2 linked regions of the Homo sapiens genome follow. Each later gene encodes a partner of the first gene's protein in a complex. Each region holds a gene or a part of one and is shown in the gene's direction. Other genes may lie near its edges. The genes, in order: P2RY12 and GNAI2.

Region 1 (16,653 bases):
TAAACAGTGCTTGGCTTGCAGTGGGCAGAGATGGAAAAGGATCTCTTCTGAATTCTATTTCAAAAGACTACAAGTGTGTCAGGAATACCAATACTGAACGACACTCATCACTGAAAAAGCACCTTCAGTTGCTAAGACTCATGATCATTTCATCTTAGAAGGCCTTTCCAATATCTTGGGTCTGGAGAATTACGCCAGAGAGCCCTACAGTGCTTCAGAACCACTCTTTGGCCAAGATGGTATTTCACTTGCAATTTTCCAGACATCGTTCTAAAGAAGTAGACACTCCCCTCATCCCCCATGCTTCCTCTTCCTTATAGTAGCTGCAAAGCCTGTAAGGATCACACCTGAAGGTCTCAATTTCCCTACCTTCCCTCATCTAGTCTAGCCCTAGAGGATGGAAGAGAAACAAAATCTCATTTCCCTGCAATTTTACTGAAGAGCATATCTCATTGAAAAGAGGGAGCTTCAGGAAGAATAGAGGAAGAGGGGACATGACCAGACTGACCTGGGGAGCAGGATTGGTTTCAGGGCTTTTTCATCAGAAAAGAACAAAAGCCCATCCACGTGGACTGACAGGCTGGAAACCCCAAATTTGAGGGAGTGTCAGTCTGGACCATTTTAAACTTCCCTTCAAGACAAAGGAATACTGGTAGGAAGACTGAATGAGAAGGGGGCACTGATGCTCAAGTGGCATCCTAAAGTGGTGGTGGTCATTTCTAAAATAGTATTAATCACCAAGCTATCAGCTAGGAAAAGATGTATTTTAGTTCTCACATAGGTAAACAATAACCAATCATGAATATCTGAATGAAATGGTGAATATTTCTTCCACTGTGCAGCAAGAATGCTGTGGAATTTCATTAAAAATGTCTCAAATCCTCTATCAAATATTTTCCAGGTTTTAATTTAATTTAAATAGAAAAACATTTTATGCATTACTTCTCAAGGTTTATAAAATTATTTCTAAATCACCATCAAATAGATTTCTGTTGTAATGAAAAGATTATTATACGTGGGGAACACTAATAGAGAAACAAGAAGTAAAACTATTTTAAATTAGGCTTATTTTCATCTTTTATAAAGTCTGAAAACATGGTAAAGAAGGAAAATATATGAGGGTAAGATGGAATAGTAAAACATAAAATCTCAGGAACATCCTATTGGCTATGCTAACTCCAAGTTTTATCAAAGAAAAACCAAATAGAGCTTTTTATGTTAATTTACTGAAGATATCAACCACTTAAAATACAATAAATATTTTAGACATATTAAAAATATGTGAGAGAATGGGATTGTATAGTTCTAAAAATTTCAAGTTTCAAACCCGAGGAAATTAGGAGGCACTGAAATATTAATTAAATATTACAATGGAAGCCTACAATTAAAATAAAATTATTAAAAGTGGAGGACGGAAAATCAAAAGCTTTAATCTTTTGTCTGTGACAAGTCATTGTGTGCCATTCAGTTAATGCAGAAACCTGTTAGGAGAACTGTCATAACAAAACTTATCCTGCTCTTGGTAATGTTTCGAGGGATATGATTTGGGCACGAGTAAATCTCATACTAAATGCTAATGAGCCAAGGTTCTCCTTCCTTTCCCCACTTACATCAACTCTTGAGCTAGATTTCGTCTTGCGCTTCCTTCCTTTTGTTTTCTTTTCTTCATCTGTTGTGGTTTTTCCCTGATCTGACAGCTCAGCGGACTTCCTTTCTGGTTCCTGAGAAACTGGAGATGTGGGCTCTTCCTCTTCCTCCTCAGGAGGCAGGGGCAGTGGCTGGAGGTAGTAACTGCGGGGCTTGGGCATGGGGTGTGTGTGATACAGCAGGAGGTGATGCTGCTCCTCGTACTTGATCACTCTTCGGTCCACTCGGACTGTCCCAAACCAGGCCCAGGACAAAGGAGCTGGGTTCTTCTGACCCTCAAACAAGTCCCACGGGGACACCTTCTGCTTCGTAGAGACCTGGAGACCCTGTGGGAAAATAGCGCTCTAAGATAGCACACTCAGATCTTTTCCTTATTCATAGGCCAGGCTTGTATGGGACATGGAGTCAGAGAACACTTTGGCTGGCATGAGCCCTAGAGAACCCGAGAATACAGCAGAGAGGGTTACACAGCTACATCACCGGAGAGCAGTGGCTAGAATTCAGACCTTTGTAAGCCCGGTTCTACAGTTCTTTAACCACATGATGCTCTGTTTAGGCAACAGAGGCAGTCTAGCATATTTTATTGTTAATGTGTATTTCCTCTTTTTGCTAAAAAAATTCTAAAAATTTGTTGCTAAAAATTCTAACACTGCAAAGTTAATCTTACTAAATTATAACCAGTTCTAAATCTCTGTAATCTATTTATAATTTTGAAGATAATATCAAATTTAAGAGTCAAGTTATAGTCAACCTGTAATTGGGTTAGTATTAACTTCAATCCAAATCTGCATGAACTTGGTTCAATATGTGGGCCCTGTACTTAATAAGCCATACTCTGAATATAATATTATTATTAGAGAATTAAATTGTAGCAGCAGGAATAAGTAAAGTCTTTCAACTCAAGCTTATATTTACTGACTCTAGAAAAAAAAAAACGGTTACCCTCTTTTTATTCTTAACATTAATTGGTGACATCTCTTGGCACTTGCCTTAAAATGTCAATTTAAAAATATTTTTCCTTAAATGGCCCCCAAATAACTACTCAGTCATTCCCTAAGATGTAAGTGTTACTGTTGTTATCTATATGCATTCTTTTATGAGTAGCTTCATCTAAAACTAAGGTTCAGGCCAGGCACAGTGGCTCGTGTCTGTAATCCCAACACTTGGTGAGGCTGAGGCGGGTGGGATCACCTGAGGTAAGGACTTTGAGACCAGCCTGGCCAACATGGTGAAACCCCGTCTCTACTAAGAATACAAAAAAAGGCTAGGTGTGGTGGCTCACACCTGTAATCTCAGCAATTTGGGAGGCTGAGGCAGGTGGATCACGAGGTCAGGAGTTCAAGACCAGCCTGGCCAAGATGGTGAAACTCCGTCTCCACTAAAAATACAAAAATTAGCCAGGCATGATGGCAGGCACCTGTAATCTCAGCTACTCAGGAGGCTGAGGCAGAGAATTGCTTGAACCCGGGAGGTGGAGGTTGCAGTGAGCCGAGATCACGCCACTGCACTCCAGCCTGGGTGACAGAGCAAGACTCTGTCTTGAAAAAAAAAAAAAAACAAAGACAAAAACAAAAAAAAATTAGCTGGGCCTGGTGGTGCATGTCTGTAATCCCAGGTACTCAGGAGGCTGAGACAGGAGAATCGTTTGAACCCGAGAGACAGAGGTTGCAGTGAGCAAAGATCGCACTACTGCACTCCAGCCTGGGCGACAGAGCGAGATTCCATCTCAAAAAATATAAATAAACAAAGTAAAACAAAATAAAACCAAGGTTCAATTGCCACCTGTAAATTGACTGTTTCCTAATATTTGTCTTGAGATGAGAACTTTTTCCTTGGTGTAAAAACCACACATCCAAATGGATTCCAGATGTCTTACTACCAGGAAGTCCGCTGACACTGCAAACTCAAACTTGACCATGACTTTAGCTTTTTTTCTTTACACAAACTGGTATTAGATTCTCAGGCTACTCTAAATTCCCTGGTAAATCTGATTCTTTCATGTCTTCATATAAACTCTCCCTTTATTTGTACCACAATTTTCCCTACCTCCCAGCTAACTCTTAATCCTTCAAAATGACTCGTGTCAATTTTCCTGGGGACCCTCTATTCTATCCCCTAATACTCTCTCTGTACCATGTCACACAAATCTCATTACACTGTAATTGTCTGTCTACTTCCCCCTTGAGGGTAGGAACTCTGTCTTTCATCTTGGTGATTGTGGAATGTCGGTGGTTGCTTACTGTTCATTAAAAGAGTAACTGACCAATTTTCTCATATTTTAGAGAACCATCTTTAATATCTTATATAAAACAAATGTCCATTAAATACTGCTTGATAGGAATAGAGAATATCCTAACAATTAAAATAATTTTTATTTGAAATAGCTTACTACAGGAAGGTTTTTTTTTTTTTTTCCCCCCCCAGAGACAGGGTCTCACTTTGTTGCCCAGGCTAGGGTGTAGTGGCTATTCACAGGCATGAGCCTAGCACATTGCAGCCTTAAACTCCTGGCTTCAAGCAATCCTCCTGCCTCAGCCTCCCAAGTAGCTGGAACTAAAGACATGTGCCACCATGCTCAGCTTACAAGAAATTTTTCATTGATAAATATATTCTGCTTCTAAATCTGAAGTATAATCAGAACTTATTTATGCAATTTTTTTTTTACACTAAGCTTTTACTTAGTTTTCTCTTGGTAGGTTTCCAAAAATTTACTTAAATTCAGGGAAACATTTTAAGTCCTTTAAACATATAAAACGTAGATCTTCAAAGATATGACCTCTTTATATGATAATGCCAATGACTAAGTACACTTAGAAGACAAGCATATGCCTTAAAAACATCAACAGCAAAATTAATATATTTTATATATCCTATGGTAAGACAAAAAAAAGTATTTCATCTTTTGTAAATAAATTTATATATAAGAAAAAACATTCACTCTTGCCTGTTTTTTATCTATAGAGTCAAATCCAGCAATTTTGTTTCCTTTTGTGTCAATCAAGGAACCCATAGGTTCACAAGTGATGACATCACATGTCTGTTTCGGCAAAGGTAGTAACTGTCGAACTTTGTCAATACTTTCTGATCGCTTGTCTCCTAGCTCTTTCTAAAGAAAAAAGAGAGAGAGAGAGAGTGAGAAGTGGGACAGAAATTACAATGAAGGCAAAAGTTAACCAGAAGGAAGTTCCCCTATGAAACATTTCCCTTTTTATAGCTTAGCGCATGTTCTTTAACCCTGAACATGTTCTACAAGGCAGTTCCAAATAGAGCAATGAGTGTTTCATTTCTTCTATTTAAGTAGAAAATAGAACACATACAAAGGCACTGTTGTTACACAACAAACATCATAGTGCTGAAATGACAAAAATCCAGGGTAGTGATCACAATCAGAAGACAGGAGCTGCAGAACAGAACACTTTCTCATGTCCAGGGTCAGATTACAAGGTAACCATTGATTTATTTGATTGGTAATGCATCAGATTTATTTGGTTTCTTTTTTGCACTGTTTTCTTACAATTTTTTTTTAAAGGAGTCTGTTAGTGGTCGGTCAAATGAATCGATTTATAAATTTCAATGCAGATGGCTATTTTTTCAATTACACGTGCCAGTCCAAGCATAGAGTTATCCTAAATCTATCTAATGTTAGTATTCTGGTTATATATTTAACAGTGGATTTCTAAAGTTCTTTAAAAAATTAAACATGTTTTATAATGTAATTGTTTTCAATAAAAAATAATCAAGGTTATGTGCATGTAACTTCTGGGTACTAATAAGGTTAGGTGAAACAAATAGCAAATAATCACATTAAATTAAGTTGAATACAATTAATAACATTTAATGAGTAATAAATTAAAATGCACTAGATAATAAATCCATAAACAACTTGAGCTCATAATACAGGCTGATCTCAAACTTACTTTCAGTTTCTTTACTAAATTCATGTATGCACGCTTGTTCTCTTCAGATCCCCCAGGGGATGCATTTGATAGGTCAGAGGCTAACGTTCCATTGATTAAAACACCCAGCATGTCAAGAACTGTTGTGAATAATTCACTAAGAAAGAAAATAATTATTTTCATCTTAAAGTGAAACTGAAATACACTTATTTAACTGAGTATTTTTATTCAAGGCACAGAATTTTTAATAGCATCCAAGTAAATAAGATGTGGCAGAAATCGCCATCAGTATATCAAAGCTTATACCATGCATACATGTAGCAAAATCAATGTGAAGTGATAAAAACATACTTGTTAGTGTGCATGTCAACAGTTCCTGAAGTAATGATCTGAAGGAGTAGCAGGGCCCAGTCTGTAGTCCACTGGGTGCTCCTCTGCACCGTGTCAAACATTCCTCCTACCTAGCAGACAAAATACAGTAAGATATTTGCATTCTGTAAAACAGAAAGAACACCCCATTGCTTTATGTTATCAAATTTTGATTGTTTTTTATTTAAAAAAACAAGGGATGCTCTAGTTTATAGATTACCTTATCTTTTCTCTTTTACCTACATGTTTATCACTATTTTTAGTTCTTTCAGCACAGTTCAGTCATTCAAACATTAACTAAAATGAAGAAGGGACGTGAGTATCTGAATGTGGGCACCAATAAACTTAGCTTTCTTTTGTTCCAAATCTTTTATGATGTCCAGTTTTATGATGCAATTATAGTTGAATTAAACCTGAATAATGTCAAAGTCATGTAATCCAATTATCTGCATCTTTGTGTTTGCTGTACAATTACTATTGAATCTAAGCCTGCTATCATAATACCATATGGAAACATCCACTATCACAGCAGTGGTGGGCAGGAGGCTTGGCCCGCACACCTACCAGTTCACGTGTTGGGACAAGGTTAGAAACAACTGCAAAAGTATCAGGCAGGCCATCCTCCAGAGGGGCCTGCACTTGGGCCTGCCTGATGGGAAAAGAAAACTCAAGGAATGCACAATATGTGAGACATTTTAAATTTCTATAAAACTTCTCTGTGGGATTTGTCTTTATAATCAATTTGATGGAAAGTTGGACAAAACTTTGAGTTAAAAGACTTTTTAAATGGTTTTAAGTAAGTATAGTAGAAGCTAACACTTATAACAGTCTTCTCAGATTTATTCTTAGCACAAACTGAAGAGAAGGAGAGATTCACTGGGGTAGAGGTAGAGAAGGCAAATCTATGCTTAAAATACCTAGCACTGTCTAGATGTCTGACCAGACAGGAAGGAAAGCAGCAAGGGAAACAGAAGGCTTTAGAAACAGGGAAGTAATTACAGAGAGCAAAGAGTGGAAGGCCTCACCTTGTAATGCAGACTTTGCACTTAGGAGAAGTGGAAAGCTGGAGGTATTTTCACATGTAAATATGTTTAATGGAGGGAAAATACTAGAAATGTCACTTACCAAATTTAGGCGGAGTTGCAATGCTTCGTGCATCATCTGCCGCGCTTTTATGTCATCTTGGTATCGTTCTTCTCTCCAGTTACTTAAAATCTAAGATCCGGAAAAAAACTCCCCATTAAAGTTTAATTTTTCTCTCATTTAAAGATAAATTGAGCTTTATACTGATAGCAAAAAACCACTTCTTATCTTTAACAAATTAACAAACAAAGCTAAATAAAATTTTAGCTTTCTTCTTCCTCCATGCAGAAAGAAATCTGGCTATTTATTTGTGCATTTGCCGTTCTAGGTGGAGGAAGAAAATCTTATATAATTATATAGCTAGCCTATGATTAAGTCTGGGAAAATGCTTGAGAGGGCCATCAAATTAAGCATTAATAAAAACTTTTAAAATACATTACCTCATTGATCTTACGAAGAAAAACACTGGAGAGAGAGAATTACATTTTGCCTCAGTCCTGTTATATTTCTAGGGACTTGCTGAACCCTAGCAAATGTATTATTTTGATGTTTTATAGAAGAGAAGGTCTGCTATCTTATGTATGTGTCTTCCTTGATAAAGAGAACGCACGGTACTTTGAAAAATATGGCATTGCAGACATCAGCCAAGTGGCTTTATCAGTTTATAAAGTGGGCTGCTTCTTCACTTCCTCACTGACTCACACTAATGCTGGAAAAGGAAAAATTTGCTTAGGAAAGGGAGCCACAAGTGGGCAACACCCTAAAATCAGATGAGATGAGCAAAAAAAAAGTGCAATTCAAAACAAAAACAAAAAACCACTAACAAAAACCCTATCATGCTCTGAAATATGGTCATTAATGAGAGTCATCTTAAAAGAGTTCAAATGAGTCACATGCAGAAGTACTCCATCCCAACAGATGACCTGTAAGTACCCTGCAAGGTGAGAGGAAAGCACTTCCCAAATCTCATCAGAAGAAATGAACCCCTCCCTAAGGCTGGCTTAAGGGGGCAAGGTAGTTAACTAAACAACAAGCTCTCATGGAGCTCAAATAATAGTAGTGGGACAAATAAAACTAAGTGTAACAAGTGGTTTGAGGCATGGCAATGGCATACAGAATGGCTGTGGTCCTATTTTTAGAGGTGATCAAAGGCCTCCCGAAGGAGGTAACATCTTAACAGAGAACTGAATGAAGGGAGCAGGCCATGCTAATCTCTGGAAGGGAATCTTTCCACCTAAAGGGAAGAAAAGATGCACAGGCACTGAAATGAGAATTTGCTCAGCAAGTTCAAGAACAGTAACATGGCCAGTGCAACAACCATGGAGGAAAGAGGGCCATGACTGGTAGGAGACAAGGTAGGAGAGAGAGCCAGTGTCAAATCATGTCTGGCCTTATCAGCCCGAATTTTTTATACTAGGTATACTGAGGTAATATGTGACTTCCATTTAAAAAGGTTCACTATGATTGCTATATCTAGATCTCTCCTACCCAAAAGGTGAGAAATGACAAGAGGATCAAATAAGATTAAGTGTCCTTGTCCATGTCCATCTAGTACCATTCGAGGGAAAGACATGGTGTCATAGAAACACAGTGCCACAAGAAGGGGTCAATTAGGCTGTGTATCAGGATAAAACACCTCATAAGACCAATCTATCCACTTTGCTTAATTCCATGCTCTCCAATTTCTGTTGTGAATGCTCAGTTTCCTTATAGTACATAGATGCAAGAGCCTCAAACAGTGACCAGGAGAACTGTGTTTGGTGAAAAGGCAATGTCCAAATTATTTCTAAATAAACCAACATGCCTTCTGATTTATTTCTTGTGTACTTGGTTGGCATCAATACAACTGAGTTTCTGAACCTACAGATTTCAAGCTGAAAGCGTGCCTGATAATGTGGCATCCAAGCTTGAGGAGCTGGACTCACTGCCATGCCTACTGCAGCATAGATTGCTCCAGGTCCTCTCCTATGAGGCAGAGTTAGGAGACGGGCAGATAGTTCAAAGTTATATGCAATATATAAAATTTTACTTTTATAGGCAGTACACATTTATTGTATATATCTCATTAATATAAAGTTGTTAATCTTGTGGTGTCTACAATGCCAGGTAGAAGAATAAGGCATGGATTGTTTCTCAGCGTCTACTCAAAACATTTTGTAACCTTACTAGTTGTTTTTTTTTTTTTTTTTTGAGACAGAGTTTCACTATTGTTTCCCAGGCTGGTGTGCAATGGCGCGATCTCAGCTCACTGCAGCCTCTGCCTCCCAGGTTCAAGCAATTCTCCTGCCTTGGCCTCCCGAGTAGCTGGGATCATAGGCGCACACCATCATGCCCGGCTAATTTTTGTATTTTTAGTACAGACGGGGTTTCACCATGTTGGCCAGGCTGGTCTCGAACTCCTGGCCTCAGGTGATCCACCAGCCTCCGCCTCCCAAAGTGCTGGGATTACAGGCATGAGCCACCACACCTGGCCCTTATTAATTTAATCTCAGTATTTGAAAGGCAAATAAATGAATGCCGTTAGAAAGATATTTGCCTGTCTTAATATTATACTATACTTTACCTGGTTAACTTGATTCTGGAGAGATGTTAGGAGGCCTTCCCTTTGTTCATCTTGTCCCTTAAGGCAGGTAAGTACCAGTGAGAGGAAGGGTTGTTGACTCAAAAGAGACATACTACAAAGGAAGTAATAATAACAACAGATCTAGTTAGAAATAATGCATTACTTCCTCTGGCAACATTCATTTCTTTGCCTCACTATTAGATAAATAAGAGAGGTGGTAAATAGCCAAAGACTGCTTGAAAATTTAAATCATACCTCTACTTATAAAATTAAAAGCCACTGTAATGCTTCTAAATCACTTCGTATGCTCTAATTGCCCTCGAAGCCATTCTCAAACTAGCATCAAACCATACTGCATGTGAGCATGCCGGGCAGTGAGGGTAGAAGACAGTGAATTCATCTTCTACATCAATATGCAGAATTTAAAAATGTACATCAGAAAGAATATCAATTTATACACAGGATAAAATTAAAAATTTTTAAAGTTCTCATATAAAACTCTTGTTTTAGAGTCTGGGAAAACAGGCCTATATATATGTCTGTTGAGCTTGTTTTGGGGTTTGATTTTGTTTTTCAGCACATTTCCCAAGACCAAAAAGCAGGGTGTTAGTAGAGCTAATTCATCAGCCAGGGCTGAGGACTCCAAAAACAGTGTACTTGCTGGCGACCCCTAGTGTGCAGCTCCAACACAGCCCACAGGCTCCAACATAGCCCGCAGCATCCACTGGTAAAGAGGTGTCAAGGCATTTGGTTAAAAATTCTGTTTTAAATTGGCATTTTAACAAAATGTCTTCAATTAGAGAATAATCAACAAATCATATTGACAAACAAAGCGCCATGTTGGAAAGACAAATTTCTTAAAATGAGACCTAGGCCAAAATATTTCAATCAGCATTATTCTCCATGGGCAGAATAAAGAGCCCCTGATGTGGGAAGAGCGATCTTTCAAGTCTCTTCAATACCATCTGTCCTGCCTATGGGAAGTTAGGCAATGCACATACACTCACCTATCAGCAAATATGATTTGAAAATTAGAATTATGCTTCCTTGTTGGTTAATTAATCCTGGCCAACATGGTAAAACAACCAGATGTAAAACAAATACAGTACATACAATGCTGGGTCTCTACCAAAATGTACTGTAGTTAAGAGCACAAGCTCAGAAGCCAGACCTCCTGGATTTAAACCCAGGCTTTATGTCCTTCACTGTGTGTCCTGGAGCAACTCATGTAACCTTTAAGTGTCTGTTTCAACATGATATAAAGAAGATAATGAGAGTACCTACCACATGATTGCTATAAGAATTTTAAAAGCTCATGTACATAATGAGTTTTAGAGAGGAGTTGCCATTCTGTAAGCAGTCAATAAATGGTGGCTACTATAGTATTATTCATTAGTGGACAAGAAATCTATGTGCTTAAAATATTTTTTTAATGGAAGAAATTATCAATTTTTTTCCTTTACTCCTAGGTTTCTTGGCATTTTCACATTAGGGTGAGGTTTCTTTCTTTCTCAGTAACACGGTTTTCAAATATAATTACTTGAAACCTTTTCTTGGGCATAAAATAAATTAAGAAAACATTAGTTGTGGTGGCCGAGGAGTCTTAATGTCTAGTCTAGAACAGGAGCCCTAAATGTTAAAAATATGAGCAACTAGTTCAGACACCAACATGCCAGAATTATACATTATATTTATTTTAAACATAAATATCTAAATAATAAAAAAATAGAAATAATTAAAAATAAAATACAGGGATCAGGTAGCTATCCAGATCTGATTCAGTTGGTCTAAAGCGGGTCTCGGAAATCACTGTTTTTAACAGTTCAGCAGTGATTTGGATATAAAGGCAGAATTGAGAACTAATGTATTAAGGATTATAACCTGAAATTTTTTAGGAATAAGACAGCCTTGCCTAATAGAATATTCCCAGTTCCATTTAAAAACTAAATTTCAGTGGACTGTGGGTACAGTGACCACACAGGTTTACAGGAAGTGAGACTTTCTCAATTATTCTTTAAACTCTCACACAGACGCCCATCTTCCAGCCACACCTTTTCTGTTTCTGTCTGTCCCTTTCCTTTTTGGAAGAAGAACCCAAGTGCTGTCCCTTCTCCAGCTCTTCCCCAGCGGCTTTCAGCACTCTTCCTTGCACAGAAGTTGGCAACCTGGCGATGAGGGGGGCCACCAACCATACACCCCTGCGTTCGGAGGAACTAAAATCAGAAACAGGTGTTACACCGGAGAAAGCATCCTTTCCCCTGCTCTCACAGTTATAACAGAAACTCCAAAGCGAAACTTTGATGTATGAGACACACAGACTGTTCTAAAATTTCCCTTTTATTTCTGTATTATCTTTCCTTTTTCCGAACACTAGACATTTGCATGAGCTTTCCACCTAAGCCTACAGAAAGCAATAAAACATGCAGTTCTGGAAGGATATTGTAACTAAACTGACTTTAATGTTTTCCGATGACCCCCTCTCTCTAATTAAAAACAATCACTTTGTCCAACAAACAATATACTTTTCTGTCACAGTTACAATATGAAATATTATATGTAAGCATACTAATAGCTAATTTTTAAGGTTTAAAATTCGCTAGTTATACTTTATACCAAAATGATGAAATACAAATCAGCCTTTCATGATTAAATAATTACTTTAAGACTTTATATGCCTACTGGTTCTAATTCTGCACAAAAATTACCAGGATATATTTGTGCAAAATAATTAATTAATAAAAATGGTGGAAAAAGCGTTTCCCATATAATGAATACTACGTAACACAGTAGACTAAGGGACACTGAAAGCATGAACCAAACCTGAGTTCACCTGCAGTTTCAAGGTGTTTAAGCCTACTCAATCAAATATTCCGAAGCTATCATTCACCCCAGCTTTACTCATTAACTTATTAATAATAATCCCTGCTTACAAGTAACTATGTTCTTCACATTCCTATGACTTAAAGAAAAATCACTGTGCTACACAAAATTTACCGTTACTTGTGAAAAATTCATGACAGTTCAATAAAACAACAGACAAAAATACCTTAGGAATGTCTTTATTCCATTCTGTCTCGTGCTACTTGTATCAGCACTTCCAATACTGTTTGGGTTGAAGAGGCTCATGCCAGAATTAGAAGAATTATTTAGGTCTGCAGACTGCTGGAATACCTCTATTGTTGCCTTTGCAATATTGTCCAGTAAGTTGTTCATTTCGGCCACAGAACCAGAGCCCTAGAGTTAGATATAAGAATACTGGCACATATGTGTATTCCTTTATCCTCAAACATCAACGTGTTTTTGCTTTTTATAAAATTTCATACAGAGATAAGCTTTCAATATAAACTCACAGGGTCCTTCAAGCACTGTTTGATCATTAGCTGGAGTTCTAACCAGGATTGCCTCAGTGTCCACTGCTCAAGATTCTGGGAAAAATGGAAAGAATTAAAACATTATGGGTATCAAATGTGTTAAAATACAGTAATTTCTTACAGTACTCCTTCTCTCAAGAAAGAGCAGAATAATCATACACAATGAAATAATTTATATGAGTCAAAAGGTTCCCAATCTTGCTGCATATATATTCAGTAGCGATACAAACCAATAAACAGAAACATTAATTATTAATTAGTTAATACTGTGCCTGACTCAGCTATGCACTGAAACTAAATAAGCATTTCTCCTTTCAAAATCTATTTAACCAATCCCAATCCAAAATGATTTCAATATTTCTTTAATAATATATTTAACATAGCCCCTCTCTGAAGCATATTTCTCATGTAAATACAATACTGATTTAAAATATCAATATTTGTTTGATGATCATATACAATTTGCAGCATGTACATCCACCCAAAAATAAAGTATGTCAATTCCACAGAAAATGTGTGGGAATAAAAATCAGAATTGAAATCACAAATTAGCAAGGACAAAAAAAGAGAGGAAGTAACTCTTTTTATTATTACGAAGAATTTATCAAATGACAGAAACACAATCTGTATACGACTGACCTGAAGAATACGCTTAATGTGCTGTCTTTGCAGATTGTCCCCCTCGGTACATTCTTTAATGCCATGAGGATAACAGATAAGCTGCAGTAATTTCTGTGCTTGCATATTTGAAAGCACAGGGTCCAATATAAGTTCTTTGTCTGTACATAATCTTTCAGGTTCTTTTAAGCAATGCTCTCCTACCCATTCCTAAAAATAATATGGCAATTAGATTGACAGGCACTGGCTTTCGGTATATATATATGCAATATGTACTAAATCCACAGTGCATAATTGAATAGAAAACTGATAGGAATTTTCCAATTTAAAAAATTACATTAAAAAGTAGGTAGAAAAATTTTAAAAAACAAAATTTTTAGCATTTTGGCTTCTAAAAAATACAAAGTAGAACTTGCTTAAAAACATTTTTTAATGGGAAAAAAGAAAAGACAATAAAGAGAATATTAGTATGTTTTTAACTGGAAAGTAAGGTCTTGCTCTAGGCACTATTTTGTGTCAGTTTTTTCTAACTTGCTATATAATGATTCTATCAGATATACGTTCTTCATAATTTTTATGGAATACATTGTACTATCTCACTGACTAGATACAACATAGTATAACAAATATTTAGAAAACGATCTTCCTTTTTGATACTATTATGAATAATGTTATCATTATAAATGAGTAGTAGTGCACATCTCTTTTTTATACAATAATTTTCTTAGGGTAATTTCATAGAAGTGCAATTGCTGGGTCCAGTGTGAGTGGGGGGCTATAGATGCATGGGGTTAATGACCCTCTGAAGAGTTTCTACCAATTTAAACTCCTATTGCCTTTTCTTTACCATTTTTTTCAAAGGCAAATTATTATACTAAATAAAGTAAGAAATCATCAACAGTAACAGAGCCCAATTTGAACCCAGATCTATTTCGGGTGAAGTCTGTTTTTTAACCACCATACCAGTGGCTCAATGCTGGTTGCCCACTAAAATTACCTGGGATCTTTATAAAATTCCATGCCCAGGGCCCACATCAGACTAATTAAGTCAAACTCAGGTGGTGGCACCCAAATATCAGTAATTTTTTAGGCATCCAAATTGTTTTAAATGCCCCAGCTGATTCCAATATGCACTCACAGTTGGGAACCAACACACAATTGCCTCTCAATACTTATATGACTATGTAGCTATCTTTTACCATAGTTATAACATGCCTGTAAAAATACAAAAACATGACCCAGTCGGTATGACACCTATAGCAAAGTACAAAATAATATATAAGGTATGTCACTTTTTTTTTATAAGAGAACTTTTAAAACAAATATATGGGAGGGAGAATAAACCAAAAAATAATAAAACTGGATCATCTGGTAAGAGGGATATGGGAGGGAGACACATCTCTGAGTATACTTTTTTGTATAGTTTCACTTTTGAAAGTAAGCTATTCTATAGCCAGAGCTGGGGACAAGAAAGGAATTTAAATAATGCAAAACCAAATGAACCTAGTTCTATTTCACATAAAGAATACACTCATAGGGATGGGAAAAGTTCAAATAATTTTTGAACACAGTATTTTAAACCCTTAGAGAAAATGGAATTGCAAACAAATCTTCAAAGCCTTTTAGGTAGGTTTGTTCTTCCTAGTGGTATGTGTGTAACATTTCTTTCTTTCTTTCTTTCTTTCTTTGAGACAGAGTCTTGCTCTCTTACCAGGGCTGGAGTGCAGTGGCGCAATCTCGGCTCACTGCAACCTCCGCCTCCCAGTTTCAAGCGATTCTCATGCCTCAGCCTCCCAAGTAGCTGGGATGACAGGCATGTGCCACCACACCTGGCTAATTTTTGTATTTTTAGTAGAGATGGGGTTTCACCATGTTGGCCAGGCTGGTCTCAAACTCCTGGCCTCAAGTGATCCACCTGCCTCAGCCTCCCAAAGTGCTGGGATTACAGGCTTGAGCCGCTGCGCCCTAGCCTAGTGTACATTTTTGATACTGTATTTTAATTAATCATTTTTTGACAAAGCGCTGGATAGCACATTTAACATGCCCGGCCATGTGTAACATTTTAAAACTATTTCAGATGTATCATAGAATTAAACAAACAAGTAAATTGACGTTTTTGGGAATCAGCATTCTTACTAGGGAAGAAGGTGATACTAATATGAATTAGGGGAAAACACAGAACAACTTTGTGGGGTTGGATTGGAATTGAAGGTATCAGTAGGACCTCATAAATATATATATTTACATATATTTAAGTGTATGGATATATTTTTCTTTCTAGCTTTGTCTGCAGACAGGTCGTAGAATTAATGATACTCCATAACCATGAGCATACATAATACCCAGATCTTGGTTTCTCAGTAACGTTCTCTGCTAAATAGAACCAAGGGCTCCTTGGAGGAATAGTTGATTCCAGGCCCGGGGCAGAGAAAGTACAACATGGGCCAGAAACTATGAAAATACCAACTATTTTTAAAATGTCAAATGATGTGATAGGATGAATAGATTCCTACTGCACAAATCTGGGACAGTCTGAACATGAAAATAACTAAGTACAGTATATTATAACCCATATGGATAATAAATAAACAGGGGAGAGGAGGGCAGGCTCTTCCTTAAAATAGGACACAAACTGATATTATGAAGGGAGAGGAGAAGTTGGGGAAAAAAAAAAACCACCATTTTGCAACCATCATAGTAAAGACTAGACTGGGCAAGAATGAAAATGAATGCTTATGAGGGGTGGGGGAGTTAAACAAGGAGAAGAAAATTTGCACTGTCTCGAAGTATCTCCTCAAAGATTGCTTACTGCAAGGGGAAAATTAGTAACTACACAGTCCCCACTGTATAGTTACTAATCTTGAAACTATACAATGGAAACATCTTAATCAAAATTAACATCACCCTTGAGGTGCAAATGGACATCACATGCCTTCAGACATGATTACCTGAAAGAACTCAAGATTATTTCTGTAGTATCTTGGCCAGGGATGCATAATCTGAAGCTAATCTACAGGAAACCTCAGACAAATCCAACAATACTGGGACAATTAATAAAATCGAACTGTGGCCTATAGATGAGAAAAAATTACTGTACCAAAAGCTA
Region 2 (15,941 bases), about 100 Mb from region 1:
GGGGTCATCCAGACCTGAGTTCGAATCCCAGTTCCACCTATGGCACTGGCTGAGAGACTCAGCATCAGGTGAAGCCCTGGCAGGAGTCCTGCTCTCCACTCATAACCTGGGGGCAGAGTGCCTCCCTGCAGCCACAGGTTATGGGGACAGTCTACCAAAGCTTGGAGGTATGAAAAATGGGTGAGGGAGGCCAGGCGCGGTGGCTCACACCTATAATCCCAGCACTTTGGGAGGTTGAGGCAGGCAGATCACCTGAGGTCAGGAGTTCAAGACCAGCCTGGCCAACATGGTGAAACCCCGTCTCTACTAAAAATACAAAAAAATTAGCCAGGTATGGTGGTATGTGCCTGTAATCCCAGCTATTCGGGAGGCTGAGGCACGAGAATCGCTTGAACCTGGGAAGTGAAGGTTACAGTGGACCGAGATGGTGCCACTGCACTCCAGCCTGGGGGACAGAGCAAGACTCTGTCTCAAAAAAAAAAAAAAAAAAGAAAAAAAAAGAAAATGGATGAGGGACCCACTGCTGAGAGTTTGGTGGGAAGGAGTCTCCCATCCTAGAGGCTGCCTGGCCTGGGTTTGGAGCCCTAGGGAACCCCCTCCCCTGCCCTCAGGCAGCTGTTCACAGCAAGTGGGGAGCCCAAGGCGTGCAGATAGTTGGTGCCAGCAGGAGTGACAGACTGCCCTGGGGACCTTAGGCCCAACCTCTGGGGGTCTAGGTTTGGAGATGTGGTAGGGCCCTGGGTGCCAGGTGGGCCAGTACCCACCCAGGCTGGCCTCCAGCCCCTACACTCTACCCCAGCCCTCTCCTTCACTGCTGGAGCTCATTAGCACTTGAATGGGGGGCGGGGCGGCTTGGGCCTCTGAGTCTCTTCTTCCCACCCCTCCCCCAGGCTTGTCGGGGCTTTGTCTGCAGGAGCAGGCAGGGATAGAGCTCCCACACTAAGGAGTGAACAGGGGTCCAAGCTATAGCTGACCCCCTCTGCCTGCATCCTGCCCAGTTCTGCTAGGCTCAGCCCCTGCCTCTCACGCCAGTGTCAGTGCAGCCAACATGAGGTCATACCTCTAGGGTAGGAGTGAGACTAGGTCCTTTAAGGGATACCTCTGAGCTGAGAGACTAGGTGAATCAGGGCAGCTGGAGCTCAGCTGGGGGCATCCCAGGCGGGTTGGGGAGAGGAACCCCAGACAGAGGGCAGAGCAGGTGTGAGGACAGAGAGAATGAGCCGCGCTGCTGTGGCAGGAGGTGGAAGTCAAACCAGTTGCGGGACACAGGCTTCCATGTCAGAAGCCCTGAGGCAGCATCACACCACCCACTATGTGTCAGAGCCTAGGCTGCTGGATGGGGCCTGGGGATGGTCCGGGACCCCTTTGGCCCTGGGCAGCTTGTCAGCGGTTGGCCCTGGGTGGCCTGAGAGGTAGGGTCACTGAGTGCCATCACTGATGTCCCAGGCCCTTGAACATCAGTTTGCCTGGCAAGTGGCAGCAGGTAGTGCTGAGGGTGGGGTGTGGTCAGGTCCCAGCAAGGTCCCTAGGCCTCCAGCACTGCAGGGGGTGGGGCAGTAGGTGCACTTGGGGCTACTTGGGCCACAGGCAGACACACAGGTCCTGTATACTCTGCCGTTGATCTTAGTTCTTGGTCCCTGGCTGTGACTCTCTCAGTCTGTCTCTAAAAGCCACCCATTCACTTGGCGGGAACAGGATGGAGGAAGCTTTGTCCACCCAAGCTCTTAGCCACTGAGGAACCAGGGACTCCCCCCACCCCACCCACAGCAGAGGAGGAGACTGTCACCCCAGAGCCTGAGTGCTGCCTCCCCTACATCCCGTTGTGCTGTGGGGGGAGGCAGGACCGGGCAGATGGGGGCAAGGTACAGGCCAGGGAGTAGTCTCATCTTCCCAGCATCTCAGGCCAGGAATCCCAGCCTAGGAGTTGAGCGAGGAGGGGAAGGGGTCAGCAGGTTCTGGCCAGGCCACTGCTGATACACCCTGCCTAAGAGTGCTCTGCAAGGTGCTTTGGGGAAGGCAAAGGATTGGGCCCTTTGATGGTGTCCCTGGTACCTGATGCTCTCAGGCAGCCCTTCCCTCAGCTACAGGTGCAGGGTGGAACCCCGTCTGCCCAGCCCCACCCAGCCCTTCTAGCTTGAAGCTCTCGTTCTTACTAAACCCCAACCCCACCCTCACCCTGATGTTACTTCTTGGGGCTGTGGCTGCTCTTGGTGGCTGGGGAGGAAGAATCTTTCTGGAATAACCAAACATTTGCTGGGCTGGTTCTTCTGTGCCGGCCTCTGTGCACATTTACAAGGCTTGAAAGGCAGCACCACACCAGTCTGAGCAAAGGCCTAAAGGTGGGGTCATCTCAGCCTTGTTGGGGAGAAGATATCCTTATGGCTTGGAGGAATCTGGGGGCTCCAAGGCTGCTGACAGCCTCAGGATATGCAAAGGAGGTGATGGCAGCACCTACTGTGTGTGCCCCCGGCGGGAGGAGGAGGTAATGAAGTCTGCACGACATGGCAGGGCAGGGCTGGGCCTCTCGGGGAAGTGGTGTCCACACCAGAGGAAAAGGAGGAAGCAGCTGGGGGAGGAGGAGCCCAAAAGAGGAAGAGGCCAGAGGGCTGCCTGGTGCTAGGGTGGGGGTGAGAGCCCAAGGGCCCCCCAGGGCTTTGCCAACTGGAAGGGTCTAGGAGGTGAACACCTGCCCAGGCTTATCTTTGCACTCCTGTGGGCCATTCTAGTGGCGGTCACTGAGTTGGAGCCAGTCCAGGTAGCTCTGTACCTTGTCCCACCCCAGCAACCATCGGGCCCAAGATCCCAGAGAAGGTGGTGCCTTCGAGAAGGATTCCAGGCCCCTTCTTTGGCCACAGGAAGTTGTGGCTGGGAGAAGGACGCTGGCGGGAGGGCTAGCAGGAAGGCAGAGGGCTGCTCTTAGATTCCCGAGCGGCCATTGCTCTCCAAAGCCGGAAGGCCAGCCACAGGCTGAGATGAATGCCTGGAAATGCAGCAACAGCCCCGAGATGAGCTCACTCTGGGTTTCCCCTGCTGGGGGGCGGACAAAGGATCCCTGGCCTCAGCCTAAGGATTCTCCCCTACCAGCACCCACTCACTGGGTCTAGGGCTGCATTCACTGGGCCTGTTTCCCCTCAGGTGATAACCACAGCTGTCTCTGATTGAGCCTTGACTGTTGTGTGGAGCTGAATTCTTCATTATCTTGTCATATTTAATCCTGTGAGGCTGGGACTGATATTACACCCATTTCACTGATGGACAAACTGAAGCTCAGGGACTTTATGCACTTAAACAGGGAACAGAGATGTCAGGACATGACCCATGTAGTGATTAAGCGCCTGCCTCCAACTGCCATGGCCCTTTGGGAGTCTGTGCTGGCTGGAAGTAACGGATCAGGCAGGACAGCAGGCAGACGGTGTGGGTGCGTGTGTGTTCTGCCTGTGCCTATGGGCCCTGGCTTTCGGGCCTCAATTCTTCTTTTAGGAGGCGGAAAGGGAGCTGTCTGTCCTGGAAGGTGGGACCCAAGACTCTGTGTATGAAGCTTTCTACAGCCATGTGGTCATGGGGGACCCCCTCCACTCCTTTTTTTTTTTTTTTTTTTTTGAGATGGAGTCTCACTCTGTCACCCAGGCTGGAGTGCAGTGGCATGATCTCGGCTCACTGCAACCTCCGCCTCCTGGGTTCAAGCGATTCTCCTGCCTCAGCCTCCTGAGTAGCTGTGACTACAGGTACGTGCCACCACGCCCAACTAATTTTTGTATTTTTAATAGAGACGGGGTTTCACCATGTTGGTCAGGCTGGTCTCGAACTCCTGACCTCAAGTGATTCGCCTGCCTCGGCCTCCCAGAGTGCTGGGATTACAGGTGTGAGCCACTGCGCCCGGCTGCAGCTGCACCTTTTGACTTCCCACTTTTTCTCCTAGTCCGTATCCTCTCACAGTGATGCTCAAGTTATAGCTGGCAATTTAGGACTTCATTCTTTCCCTAATATTATGCTTGTTCTCCCATAAGCCCCAGTCTTAGACTGAGACCAAGCCTGGGGAAGGCTCAGAAGCTATTGAAGTCCATGGTGAGGGCCTCTGAGACTGGGAATTGTCCAGAGGAGTGAAATGAAAGCATGTTCCTTAGGGCTGCACTGTGAGCACAGGCTCAGTGCTGGGTGCACGTACGGTACTGTGTGGTGGTAGAATGTGGCCATGGTGTTGGCTGATGACTGCATGATAGTTGTTGAGGCTGGTTCCTCTTGCTCCTTGGCCTCCGAATCTCAGTGCTGTGGCCTAGTGGGGCCTTGCCCTCTCTTGTAGGGGTTCCTAGGGGTTCTGCTGTGTTGCCAGGCCAGGCCGTAAGGGACTGAGGGGGCTGAGGAAGGCTTAGGAGAGCCAGAGCAGAAGCGTCCAAGCCTCTCTGGGCCATGAAGCCATGCACAGAGCAGAGACCCGTGCATCCTCATGGCCACCCAAGACTGTGGGTCCCAGAGGGTCCAGTTCCTCACCATGAGACCTCAGACTGTCCTCTTCCCTCTCTGTATCCAGCACTAGAATCTGTGATGCTGTGATTTTTTTTTTTTTTTTCTGAGACTGAGTTTCGCTCTTGTTGCCCAGGCTAGAGTGCAGTGATGCAATCTCGGCTCACCACAACCTCCGCCTCCCAGGTTTAAGTGATTCTCCTGCCTCAGCCTCCAGAGTAGCTGGGATTACAGGCATGTGCCACCATGCCCGGCTAATTTTGTATTTTTAGTAGAGACAGGGTTTCTCCATGTTGGTCAGGCTGGTCTCGAACTCCTGACCTCAGGTGATCCGCCCACCTCAGCCTCCCAAAGTGCTGGGAATACAGGCGTGAGCCACCCCGCCCCGCCAGTGCCGTGATTCTTAGCATGGTCTCCTGGCCTGTGGACACAAGGACAGCTGCTGGCTTGGGTTGGGCCCTGAGGCAGTTTGGGGTGACTTTGAAGAGGCTACTCAGGGCAGGCCTTGGGTTTGGCACCCTCCCTCAAGGGGTACATTTCATAGATGAGGCCTAGGCTCCCGTTATCTTTCCCAGAGTCCACCGCCATGAATCAGAAGGGAAAAGAGGTCATTCAGGTGCCTTGGGAACAGCGGAGGGATGCCTGAAATGAAGAGGCCTCCAGGGAGACGGTGCCAAATGGCCCAGCTCCGCGTGATCCGCGTCTTGTCCAGCACCTCCTGGCTCCTGCACAGGCGGTACCTGGGGCCTGAGGCGCCAGCGATGAACAGGTCTGGGGCCTCCTTTATATCAGGCCAGCCTTCCTCACCCGGTGCCTGAGTTTCCCTCTGTGCAGTGGAAAGGGCCCCACTGAGGGAGACACACCTTGCCCCAGAAAGACTTTCCCATGTGTGGGCAGGACCTGAGGCCTCAGTTTCCCTAACACAGAGATCTCTGACTTGGCAGTAGGAAGCCAGGCCCTGCTTGGTAGTGCTCCCCTTTGGGCACTGTGAACCCCTGGAAGCCGCTGGAGGCAGCCGAGTGCCAGAGACTGGCGGGAGGGAGGTGTGGAGTCTGTTGGTCTGTTCAGGCATCCGTTATAGGGCCATGCCACACACATGGGTGGGAGTGTTGCCGGTCCCTTTCAAGACCTCGAGTCCCTGCCTCCCAGTGCCGGACCCGTGCTGAGCCTTCTCGGAGGGAATGAGGGGGGCCGGGGAGCAGCACCTGGAGGAAGGAAGAGACGCCAGGGGCGGGGCTCAGAGGGCCTTTGTCTGGCGGGGTCTCTGCCCCTCCCTCCCGTTGCCATGGTTTCTGTGTGTGCCGAGTCTCTGCAGGCTGGGGGCTTCCCAGGGACGGGCTGGTGGGTGGGACACCTTCCCCAGTCGCCCCTGGCTGAGGCTGCTTTTCTGAAACAAAACGCTCCCCAGTGCTGCCCAGCCCCCACTTCCTTCCACAGTGTCTCCGGCTGCCGGGCGCCCCCTGGTGGTGGCGGGGCATGGGTCCCTAGGACTGCAGGGGACGTGGGGGTGCACGGGATCTGAGAACCACAGGCTGAGCTGGAGATGTGGCACCTTCCTGGGATAAGAGAAGGAGGTGGTGTCCGGGCTGCCTTTGTGGTGGGCTCAGGGCTACCCCCACCTGCCCCACCATATCCCACTGGGATAGGCTGGGGAGTTGTGGCAGTGTGGGCGGGCCTGGTGTTGTGGGTTTGAGCTGGGCCGCTGCCCAAGTCTACCCTGTGGTCCCAGCCGCTGCTGCTTCTGAGAATCTCTGCCCTCGGGCCTGCCACGTCAGCTGGCTGCTCTTCCTGGCCCCACGTGTTCCCACGGAGCCCACCAGTATGGGGGTTCTCTCCAGGGAGGTGTGCCTGGCTTTCTGGGTGTGTGCAGCCAGTGAGCAATGTCAGCAGTGAGGCTCCTGGGCAGGAAGGAGGCCCCAGCTGTGTAGGAGTGCCGGGTTATACTGAAGGGAAGTGACGACACAGCGGAAAGCCAACAGAGGAGCCAGTAGCTCTGACTCCTGTCCCAGGTTATGCTGAGTCCCAGCAGGGAACCACCACAGCTCTGAATCAGCCTGTTAGCCGCTGTCCATTGCTCTTCATCTGCTCTTTATCTGAAAATCTTCAGAAGCTTTCCTTCAAATGAGATGACCACAGCAGTCTTCTCTGCAGGTTGCAGGAAATGAGAGGTTTGGGGAAATCTGTACTCTTTCAAAGGGTAGATAAATAGTGATAACTTTTACCTGAATGCTCACATGTGCCCCACACTGTGAGAAGAGCTTTGCATTTAATCCTTACCCATCTCTCAGAAGGAGACAGCGTTGTCCCATTTCACAGATGAGGTGCCAGAGAAAGGGCAGGAAAGGAGCTGAAGCTCTTGAGGATCTCAGGAAGGATCAGAGTGGACATCAGGGCTGTGGCAAGTCTGGACCTCCTTCTGGGAGAGGATCTGAAAATGGGAGGCAGGCTGGCTGGCTGCTTGAGGCTTGACAGCTCTGCCCAGGGGAAACTGAAGCCAGAAAGGATAGTAGCAAGTCCCAGCCTCCCAGCAGATCAAAGCCTATTAAGGAGTTAGAGGGTCCAAGATGAACAGATGCTGTGACTTGAATGCTGGGGCCTGGACTAAGCATCAAGTGACAAGACCTGTGGGCCTGTCTCTCCTGCTGCAGGGGCCCTGCTGGTCTTGTTCACGCAGGTGGAGTGGTACTGTCTCCCTTCTCTCATCGGTTCCCTCCTCTGGGGCTCAGCACTCCCAAAGTGGAAGCAGATGTTCTAGTGCAGAGCAGCTGCCACCACCCAGCACATCACTATGATTACTGCCTACCTGCTGTGGGCCCTAACTGCGCCACAGGGCAAAGGCTGCAGAGGTTTCTTCCTTGGTGGGAAGAGGTGTGACTCAGTGGGAATGCCAAGGCCACCCCAGGGAACCTCTGCAGGCCTCTCTGGTCTTACCCAGCTGGGGACAGAGCACTTGGTGGGGCCCTCTGCGGGCAGGAGGGGCTGATTCATGCCACCTTCTATTGCCTCAGTTCCCCTACCCAGCATCTTTGCAGAAATCTGGACTCAGGCTGGACGCGGTGGCTCACGCCTGTAATCCCAGCACTTTGGGAGGCCAAAGCAGGTGGATCACTTGAGGTCAGGAGTTCGAGACCAGCCTGGCCAACATGGTGAAACCCTGTCTCTACTAAAAATACAAAAATTAGCCGGGCGTGGTGGCACATGCCTGTAGTCCCAGCTACTGGGGAGGCTGAGGCAGGAGAATTGCTTGAACCGGGAGGCAGAGGTTGAACCGGGAGGCAAAGGTTGCAGTGAGCCAAGATCATGCTATTGCACTCCAGCCTGAGCAACAGAGCGAGACTGTGTTTCAAAAAAAAAATCTGGACTCAGCCACCCCTCTGAGAGGCAGGTGCGAGGGGAGCTGGGTGTGTGCAAAACTCACAGATAAGCCTCTTGCCAGCTTATCTGGTAGGGGGCATCCCTCAGGTCCTGATGGAAAGAGGACCCAGCCAGAGATGGGGAGAGTGAAGCTACTACCCCACAGCTGCCAGGGCACTTAGCCTGTGGGCTGCCCGAGAGCTCTTCACCCCACCCATTCCACCCAGATGCCATCCTGGGGCTCCACCCACCTCTGCTCCTGTCCCCCTTCTCTGCTGGAGCTGCTCCTGGGCTGTGCCCCTGCCTCTGTCCCGTTGTTCCCCCTGCTTCCTGCCTGGCTGCCAGCACCACACCCTTGTCCTGCCACTCACTACTTCCCGCCTGAGTCACAGCTGCTGGAAAGACAAAGAGACCAGCCTGAGTCTAGGGATAGGGGCTCCATGACCTTGATTTGCTTACCTGTCAAGTGGAACTCTTTTTTCAGTGACCCCTGCTTGGGATAGAGAATGTTCTCTTAACATTTAAGAGGCCTTAGGAGGGGAAAATGAAACTTGAAGGGGACAGGGAAGTGGGCCCTCCCTGGCTGGGGCAGGGAGCAGATATCCTGGCTCCTAGTGTGACTGGCTCTGTGCTGCCTACCTCATGTCTACCAGGTCTAGCTGCTGCTAGGAAAATCAGATGCAAAGCAAGTTTGCACCCTCGTCCCTGGGCAGGGTCACGAAGCGGCCCACATCACCTACTAAGAGTGGGCAAAAGGCCAGACCCCCTCTTCACTCTCAGTGGCCAGATAGGGAAACTGATGCCTCAAGTGGGCAGGAGTCCCGAAGTCACACAAGATGGGGAAGCTTTCACCCTAGACCTCAGGTCCCCCATGCCCTGGGTAGCTTCCCTGCTGAGTCTGAGCTCGCCTGGCTCGGGACTGCATGGGGACCCATGACTTCGCATCCTTGGCCTCTGCTCCTGCAGTTCCCCCCATCCTGGCTGTGACTGGCTCCTGGTTCTTCCTCCTGCTCTGGAGGAGCCAGTGGGGAAGACAGTCAGGTAGCCACTGCTGCCCTCCCTGCCCCAGTGGGTGCTTTGAGCCCCAGGGGGATGGGCCTTAAGTGTTCAGGCATCGCTGTGAGGCTTTCCTGGGACCTTTCCCCATGTCCTCATTGGCAGGTGGAGGAGTGTTGGTATGCAGATCCTGGCTGCCCCTTTGCCATGCACAGCCCAATGGGGAGGGAGTGGTGCTGGTATATATCCCGGTACACACCCCAGTGAAGATACTGGGCCCGGCCCCTGTAGTGCCCAGGGGCTAAAGCAATAGAGGGGATTGCTGCCCCAGCCACAGCGCCCCAGCCTTCCCAGGGCCTGCACATTTGTATGTCCACAAGATTGTGCAACCATCACTGCTATCTAATTCCAGAACATAATCACCACCCTCAAAAATAAACTTCATACCCAACTAGCTGTCACTCCCCATCTCCCCAGATCCCCTCCCCTCATCCTGGAAAGCAGGCCTGGGACAGTCAGAAGCTCAGTGATTGCAGGCGCCTGATGGCATTTGTGAGGAGGGCTCAGGCCTTTCCCCTCAGGGTGGTCTCTGGCGTAGGGGGCTGAAGGTGGGCAGGGGCCTTGGCAAGGCCTGCCACCATGTCCCAATGCCTGCTGCCGCTTGTTGAGCACTGCAGACATGGCCCAGAGTCTGCCTGGGGAGCTAGGGAGTGAACCCAGTGCCAGGTGGACTGTGTGGCTCCGCTGCAGTACCAGGTACTTAGGACAGCTCTAGGAGGGACTGCACGGTGGGCAAGTGTGCTCCCTGCAGAGGGGACTCTAACCCTGTGACCTCAGCCTCCCTGGACCTCAGTTCCTTCACTGGTTAGATTGGGGTGAGAATGGAACCTACCTCCCAGGATTGCTGTGGAGATGGCAGTTGGTGGGTGTCATTGATGTAGAGCAGCATCTGGCACATGGTGGGCGCTGTTTTCATATAGCTTTGCTGTCGATATTGCCGATGTTATTGTTACTGCTTGTGTTCGTTTGTGTGTTAGCACCTTCATCCTCTGAGGTTGTTTTGACCAGCCCCAAGGGATGCTGTTGAGCTTGGCCAGAGTACCCAAGTTTGACCTCTGCACAGACCTTACTACCCACCCAGCTAAGCTGCACAGAGGAACAAACGTGCCACAGTGATCAGAATTGGGACACTGTGAATGGGGCATGGGGCACGTATTCCCGGCAAAGAGAACAGCATGAGCAGGGCCCTGGAGATAGCTAGAGGTAGTGCCTGGCAGCTGCAGGTGTGACTGGCAGTGATGGAGCAGGAGCACAGGGTCTGGGAAGGACAGCAGGGCCCAGCTGGGGGCCATTCAACCTGGAGCTCAAGACAAGCCAGCAGCAAGGGAGCAAGGTCAAGGTGAGGCCCTGCCTCCACTCCCTCTGGCCCCCAGCCAGGGAGTTGGGTGGCCCCCCTGGTCCTTCTTTACACAGACTCCCTGGGTAATACAGGCTCCTGGGCTGCACTCCTCAAGATCTGGCTCTGTTGTCTGGGATGGGACCTGGGAGTCTGCTTTTTTTTTTTTTTTTTAGACCAAGTTTCGCTCTTGTTGCCCAGGCTGGAGCGCAATGGCACAATCTCGGCTCACTGCAACCTCCACCTCCCAGGTTCAAGCGATTCTTCTGCCTCAGCCTCCCGAGCCGCTGGGATTACAGGCACCTGCCACCACGCCTGGCTAGTTTTTGTTATTTTTAGAAGAGATGGGGTTTCAACATGTTGGCCAGGCTGGTCTCGAACTCCTGACCTCAGGTGATCCACCTGCCTCAGCCTCCCAAAGTGCTGGGATTACAGGCATGAGCCACCACTCCCGGCGGAATCTGCTTTTTTAAACACCTCCCCAAGGCATTGTCCCGCAGGGTCTCAGCCACATTTTGAGAATGGCAGGGTGGACCAGGCATCATGGGTTCCCTCCACCCTCTTGCCCTTCTGAGTCCTGGCTACATGATCTTAGATCAATACTTTATTTTTCTGAGCCTCAATGTCCTCATCTGTAGAATGGGAACAGAAACAGTATCTGCTGTGACTAATACAGGAGAGAATGCAGCAAATCTCAGTACCAGCTAAAGAGAAATATGGGCCAGGGCTGTACCAGGCCAGGGAAAAGCTTGAGTCAGTATGGGCGTGTGTGGGTGTGGGTGTGTGAGATACGCCGCAGGTCTCCCAGATTCATGAGTCAGTACGCGTGTGTGTTACACTGTAGGTCTCCTAGATTCTAGCCTTCTAGCCTCCATCTGCTCAGGGCAGACCTGAGCGCAGTGAGCAGAGGGCGGGGCATTGGGCCATGTCCAGAAAGCTGAAGTGTGACGCTGTGCTCCTGCTTAGGCCCCTGGTTGCTAAGGCTCAGTGTGGGGAGAAGAAGGGCTGCTACCCTGTTGGATGGAGTATGCAGGGCATCTTCCTGCCAGCTCTGCCCAGGGCACCATATTGGCATGCACCAGCTGCACAGGTTGGCGAGCCTATGTATGTGAGAACAGGGTGGCTCCTTCATGGCTGGCCAAGTCTCCAGCCAAGACCCCCCAGGACAGTGGGGAGCCATGGTGGGCAGCAGAGCTTGTGGGAGGCAAAGGCCTGCAGAGAGTCTGCCATGGGGCACAGGTGCTCTAGGTTACCTTGACCACTGTGGCCCTGCCAGCTGCATTCCTGGTAGCTCAACTGCCCACCAGGCCCAGCTGCCTCCATCTCACGGTGCAGCTGGTGGGAAGGTTAGTTCTGCCTCCTGGGCTACAGGTGTCTGGGCATTTGTTCTGTGCCTGTGGAGCCCCTCTGGGCCTGCCCCCTGACCACCTGTGCCCTCTGTTCCAGGTGCTGGGGAGTCAGGGAAGAGCACCATCGTCAAGCAGATGAAGTAAGTGCTGTATTCCAGAGGCAGTGCTCAAACTCCAGCTTCCCCTCTTCACCCTCTGGGCCTGCACTGCCCCCGACTACAGGCCCAGCCAGTCTTAGCCAGGCCCAGAATCTTCTGAGAAGCAGAAGGACCCTCAGGTCCCAGTGGGTCAGGGGCAGTTTTCCCTTCTCTGAAGCAGGTCCCAGTAGCCCCAGGCAGCCGTGGGAACTCCCAGTGCCCAGGGGACACTAACCTTCCTGGTCCCTGGCTATCAGGATCATCCACGAGGATGGCTACTCCGAGGAGGAATGCCGGCAGTACCGGGCGGTTGTCTACAGCAACACCATCCAGTCCATCATGGCCATTGTCAAAGCCATGGGCAACCTGCAGATCGACTTTGCCGACCCCTCCAGAGCGGTATGTGCCCTCCGCCCCACCCTCTCCCACCTCCCAAAAGGTTTCGGGGTGGCTGGTTGTGGTGGCTCATGCCTATAAATCCCAGCACTTTGGGACGCCGAGGCGGGTGGATCACCTGAGGTCAGGACCAGCCTGGCCAACTTGGTGAAACCGCGTCTCTACTAAAAATACAAAAATTAGCCGAGCATGGTGGCACGTGCCTGTAATCCCAGCTACTTGGGAGGCTGAAGCAGGAGAATTGCTTGAACCCGGGAGGCAGAGGATGCAGTGAGCCAAGATCGCCCCATTGCACTCTAGCCTTGGTGACAGAGCTAGACTCCGTCACAGAAAAAAGTAAACAACAACAACAAAAAGGTTTTAGGGCAAGTCTCATCCTAGGGAATCCAAGAATACCCTAGCCTGGGCCCCATTCCAGAGGTCTCCCTGCCTCTGGCAGAGTGGGGGTACATTCCTTCAACTGCCTGACCACCCGCCACTGTGCCCAGGACGACGCCAGGCAGCTATTTGCACTGTCCTGCACCGCCGAGGAGCAAGGCGTGCTCCCTGATGACCTGTCCGGCGTCATCCGGAGGCTCTGGGCTGACCATGGTGTGCAGGCCTGCTTTGGCCGCTCAAGGGAATACCAGCTCAACGACTCAGCTGCCTAGTGAGTGCTCTGAGGGGCTGGGCAGGGCAGGGCAGGGGCTGGGGGAGGACTAAAGGCTGGACCGGAGGGCCTGAGAACCCCCAGAAGGACACTGCTGGTCTTTGCTTATGAAACCGATGACTGTTAACCAAGGCCTTCCTGTTTTTTGGTTTGGGGGGTGGGTGGGTGTCACGTTACTGAAAGGCCAGGAGGAATGACAGGCAGGTGGCTTATACAGTACATCTCTTCCAGGCCAGTTGAGTCTGATCTGTCTTGACAGTCTTCTAAAGAACATTTGCGGCCGGGCGTGGTGGCTCACGCCTGTAATCCCAGCACTTTGGGAGGCTGAGACAGGCGGGTCGTGAGATCAGGAGATCGAGACCATCCTGGCTAACACGGTGAAACCCCGTCTCTACTAAAAATACAAAAAATTAGCCGGGCGTGGTGGAGGGCGCCTGTAGTCCCAGCTACTCAGGAGGCTGAGGCAGGAGAATGGCGTGAACCTGGGAGGTGGAGCTTGCAGTGAGCGGAGATTGCGCCACTGCACTCTAGCTTGGGTGACAGAGCAAGACTCAGAACATTTGCTGCCACCTGTTCTGTGCCAGGCTTCAAGGACACAGTGATGAGTGGAGCAAAGTCCCCATGCAGTGACAATTTAGGGTGTTAGTGAAAAGGTAGAGGTGGAGTTGGCCCAGAGACAGGATTGCTGAGCTCTGAAGGAGAGTCAGCCAGGGGAGGAGTGGATGAGGGGATTCCAGGCAGGGGCATAGCATGTGCAGCATCTCGGGGTGGTGGGGAGCTGGCTGTGCTTGAACATAGGCTGTGGAGGCTGGCTGGAGGGGGCCACAGGGGAGGAAGTTATCTGGGAGGTGACAGGTGTGTGTGTAGGTCAGAGCCCCTGGACCTCAGCTGTGACCCTCGCTGGCCCTAGGCTGAGGAATTACAAGGGGTCCCAGGAATCCCAGAGGCATGACAAGCCTGCACCCTTTCCACAGTTCTGAACTCCTTCCCTGTGGTATCTGTCATGTACTTGGACTGGTGCAGGGTGCTGAGGACCCCACGGGGAACAGGATAGACAGGCTAATAGCCATTGAGGATGGCTGCAGGGGACATCCACAGGCTTTGGATGGTGTCACCAGATAGGCTGCTGTCCCTGTACTCTAGCCTTCCCCTATCTCTGCTTAAGCCAGTCCCCTCTGACTGGAACACCCTTTTGCTCCTATTGTTCATCCAATCCTGAGCCTACCCATAGGGTGGATTTCAGCAAGGGTGGGTGGGAGGAGGAGGAGGGTCTTGCCTGGCTGTGATTCCTGAGCCCTGTCCAAGCCACATGAACAGCCTCCTCCTACCCTTCTTACATGGCCTGAATGCTCTTGTGAATATGTACCCCCTACAGGAGCTGTGGAGTCACAGCCAAATGCTGTGGGGGCCCCCAGGCCTCACCACTGCCCCTCCCTGAGATCTCTGGCCCAGCCACCAGCGAGCTTGGGGTCAGAGCAGCAGGGACCTTGGTGCCCATGATACTCAAAGGAAGCAGGAATAGAGCCACCTCCAGGCCACCTCCTGCTTCTCCATCATCCTCTTTCTCTATTCTCCAGACATTAGGCACCCACTGTGTGCCCAGCACAGTTTTGGGAGTGAATACAGGCCCTGTTCTCCCAGTCAGGTTTAAGCCTTGATAGCTCCCCCTGGGAATGGGTTGCGGATTGGAACACCACAGGAAGCAGGGCTCCTTCAGCCCCTCTTCGCAGCAACCCTCCAAGTGTGCAGCGAGTCAGGGGGTCCCTGGGGCGAACCCACCTGTTGGGGAAAAGGGAGAGGCTGGTGTGGAATGCACCATGGTACCTCCACATTGAGGACTCTGGCAGTAGGGGGCGGGGCATGGTATGCGGGTCACAGCACATGCGTCATCCTTCCCCATGGCCCTTCCTGTTTTTCTGTTTTGTCCCTGCTACTCTGAGATCATTTCCCTCTGGCCTGGTTTGGCCTGGGTGCTGGTGGGAGCCAAGGGCCAGCCCCAGCAGCCTTGCCCCAGGAATGAAAAGTCAGCTCTGGGCAGCAGCCTGGAGGCCTGGGACCAGCCTCCAGGGCATGGCAGGGATATTGAGGCAGGCAGCAGAGGCAGGCCCTGCAGGGGTAGCCTTGATACTAATTAAGGGAACTGGTAATGAGGAGCCCCTGGGACCCCTGCCAAGCAGGTGTCTGTGCCCTCCCCCTGAGGAACCCAGATTTCATTGGGCGCTGGGCAAAGAGCCCACTGGACCTGGCAGGCCCCAACCTGTCCAGCACCACATCGAGGGACCGCACCCGGCTGCTCTGCGGCTAATGCCGTAATTGCGCCCATTAGCATCCTGAATCCTTCACCGAAGGACTAATTTGCCTCCTCCCACCCTCTTTGCCTATAGCTCCAACATCCTGGATCCTGTCCGAGGCAGGTCTGGCTCAGACCCTGGGTGCTGGAGCTTGGCTGGCTAGCTGTCCACAGAGCTGCACCTCCTCCCATTCCCATTCTACAGGTGGGAGGCCGGGGGCTCTGAGTTCAGGTTTCTTCATTTGAGCAATGAGGTAATGCAGGCAGGGGTTAAAGAAACAAGGGCTGTGCCTAGGCCAGGCGCAGTGGCTCACGCCTGTAATCCCAGCACTCTGGGAGGCCGAGGTGGGCGGATCACCTGAGGTTGAGAGGTCAAGACCATCCTGGCCAACATGGTGAAACCCCGTCTCTACTAAAAATACAAAAATTAGCTGGGCGGCAGGCGCCTGTAGTCCCAGCTACTCAGGAGGCTGAGGCAGGAGAATCGCTTGAACCTGGCAGGCAGAGGTTGCAGTGAGCCAAGATCATGCCACTGCACTCCAGCCTGGCAACAGAGTAACACTCTGTCTCAAAAAAAAAAAAAAAAAAAAAAAAAAAAAGCAAGGGCTGTGCTTGAGAAATGGCATGGGAGGGAAGGGGCCTCTTGCAGCTGGCCCAGGGTCCAGCTAAGGAAGCCCCATGCTGGCCCCCACTGACCCTCCCACCCCCCATCCCCAGCTACCTGAACGACCTGGAGCGTATTGCACAGAGTGACTACATCCCCACACAGCAAGATGTGCTACGGACCCGCGTAAAGACCACGGGGATCGTGGAGACACACTTCACCTTCAAGGACCTACACTTCAAGTGAGCGAGCATGTGGACAGGTGGGAGGGGCAGGACCTGCCAGCCTCTGGGGTAGCAGAGGCAGGGG

The links.
Region 2: the proteins of P2RY12 (region 1) and GNAI2 are in contact, whole or in part, in a cryo-EM structure (PDB 7XXI), measured with the Homo sapiens proteins. Residues at the interface, in NP_073625.1 of Homo sapiens: Phe59, Asp121, Arg122, Lys125, Thr126, Pro129, Phe130, Thr132, Asn134, Pro135, Ile212, Leu216, Ser219, Tyr220, Arg222, Thr223, Arg224, Val234, Lys237, Ile241, Leu301, Cys302, Lys303; in NP_002061.1 of Homo sapiens: Arg24, Glu28, Ala31, Arg32, Leu195, Glu319, Ile320, Tyr321, Phe335, Phe337, Asp338, Ala339, Thr341, Asp342, Ile344, Ile345, Lys346, Asn348, Leu349, Lys350, Asp351, Cys352, Gly353, Leu354, Phe355.

The regions. Positions count from the first base shown.
Region 1 is NC_000003.12:151,373,130-151,389,782, reverse strand, and holds the start of P2RY12 (P2Y purinoceptor 12), read left to right. Parts: upstream 1-5,029; 5' UTR 5,030-5,091; intron 5,092-5,564; coding exon of another isoform or gene 5,565-5,700; intron 5,701-5,894; coding exon of another isoform or gene 5,895-6,004; intron 6,005-7,037; coding exon of another isoform or gene 7,038-7,127; intron 7,128-9,558; coding exon of another isoform or gene 9,559-9,670; intron 9,671-11,609; coding exon of another isoform or gene 11,610-11,771; intron 11,772-12,604; coding exon of another isoform or gene 12,605-12,792; intron 12,793-12,908; coding exon of another isoform or gene 12,909-12,983; intron 12,984-13,568; coding exon of another isoform or gene 13,569-13,757; intron 13,758-16,653. Other genes in the region: MED12L (mediator of RNA polymerase II transcription subunit 12-like protein), read right to left, coding at 1,611-1,973, 4,592-4,753, 5,565-5,700, 5,895-6,004, 7,038-7,127, 9,559-9,670, 11,610-11,771, 12,605-12,792 and 2 more. UniProt on the Homo sapiens protein: Receptor for ADP and ATP coupled to G-proteins that inhibit the adenylyl cyclase second messenger system. Not activated by UDP and UTP. Required for normal platelet aggregation and blood coagulation.
Region 2 is NC_000003.12:50,240,447-50,256,387, forward strand, and holds part of GNAI2 (guanine nucleotide-binding protein G(i) subunit alpha-2), read left to right. Parts: intron 1-6,463; exon of another isoform or gene 6,464-6,622; coding exon of another isoform or gene 6,623-6,629; intron 6,630-11,173; exon of another isoform or gene 11,174-11,227; coding exon of another isoform or gene 11,228-11,297; intron 11,298-11,653; coding exon 11,654-11,696; intron 11,697-11,950; coding exon 11,951-12,092; intron 12,093-12,577; coding exon 12,578-12,738; intron 12,739-15,745; coding exon 15,746-15,874; intron 15,875-15,941. UniProt on the Homo sapiens protein: Guanine nucleotide-binding proteins (G proteins) are involved as modulators or transducers in various transmembrane signaling systems.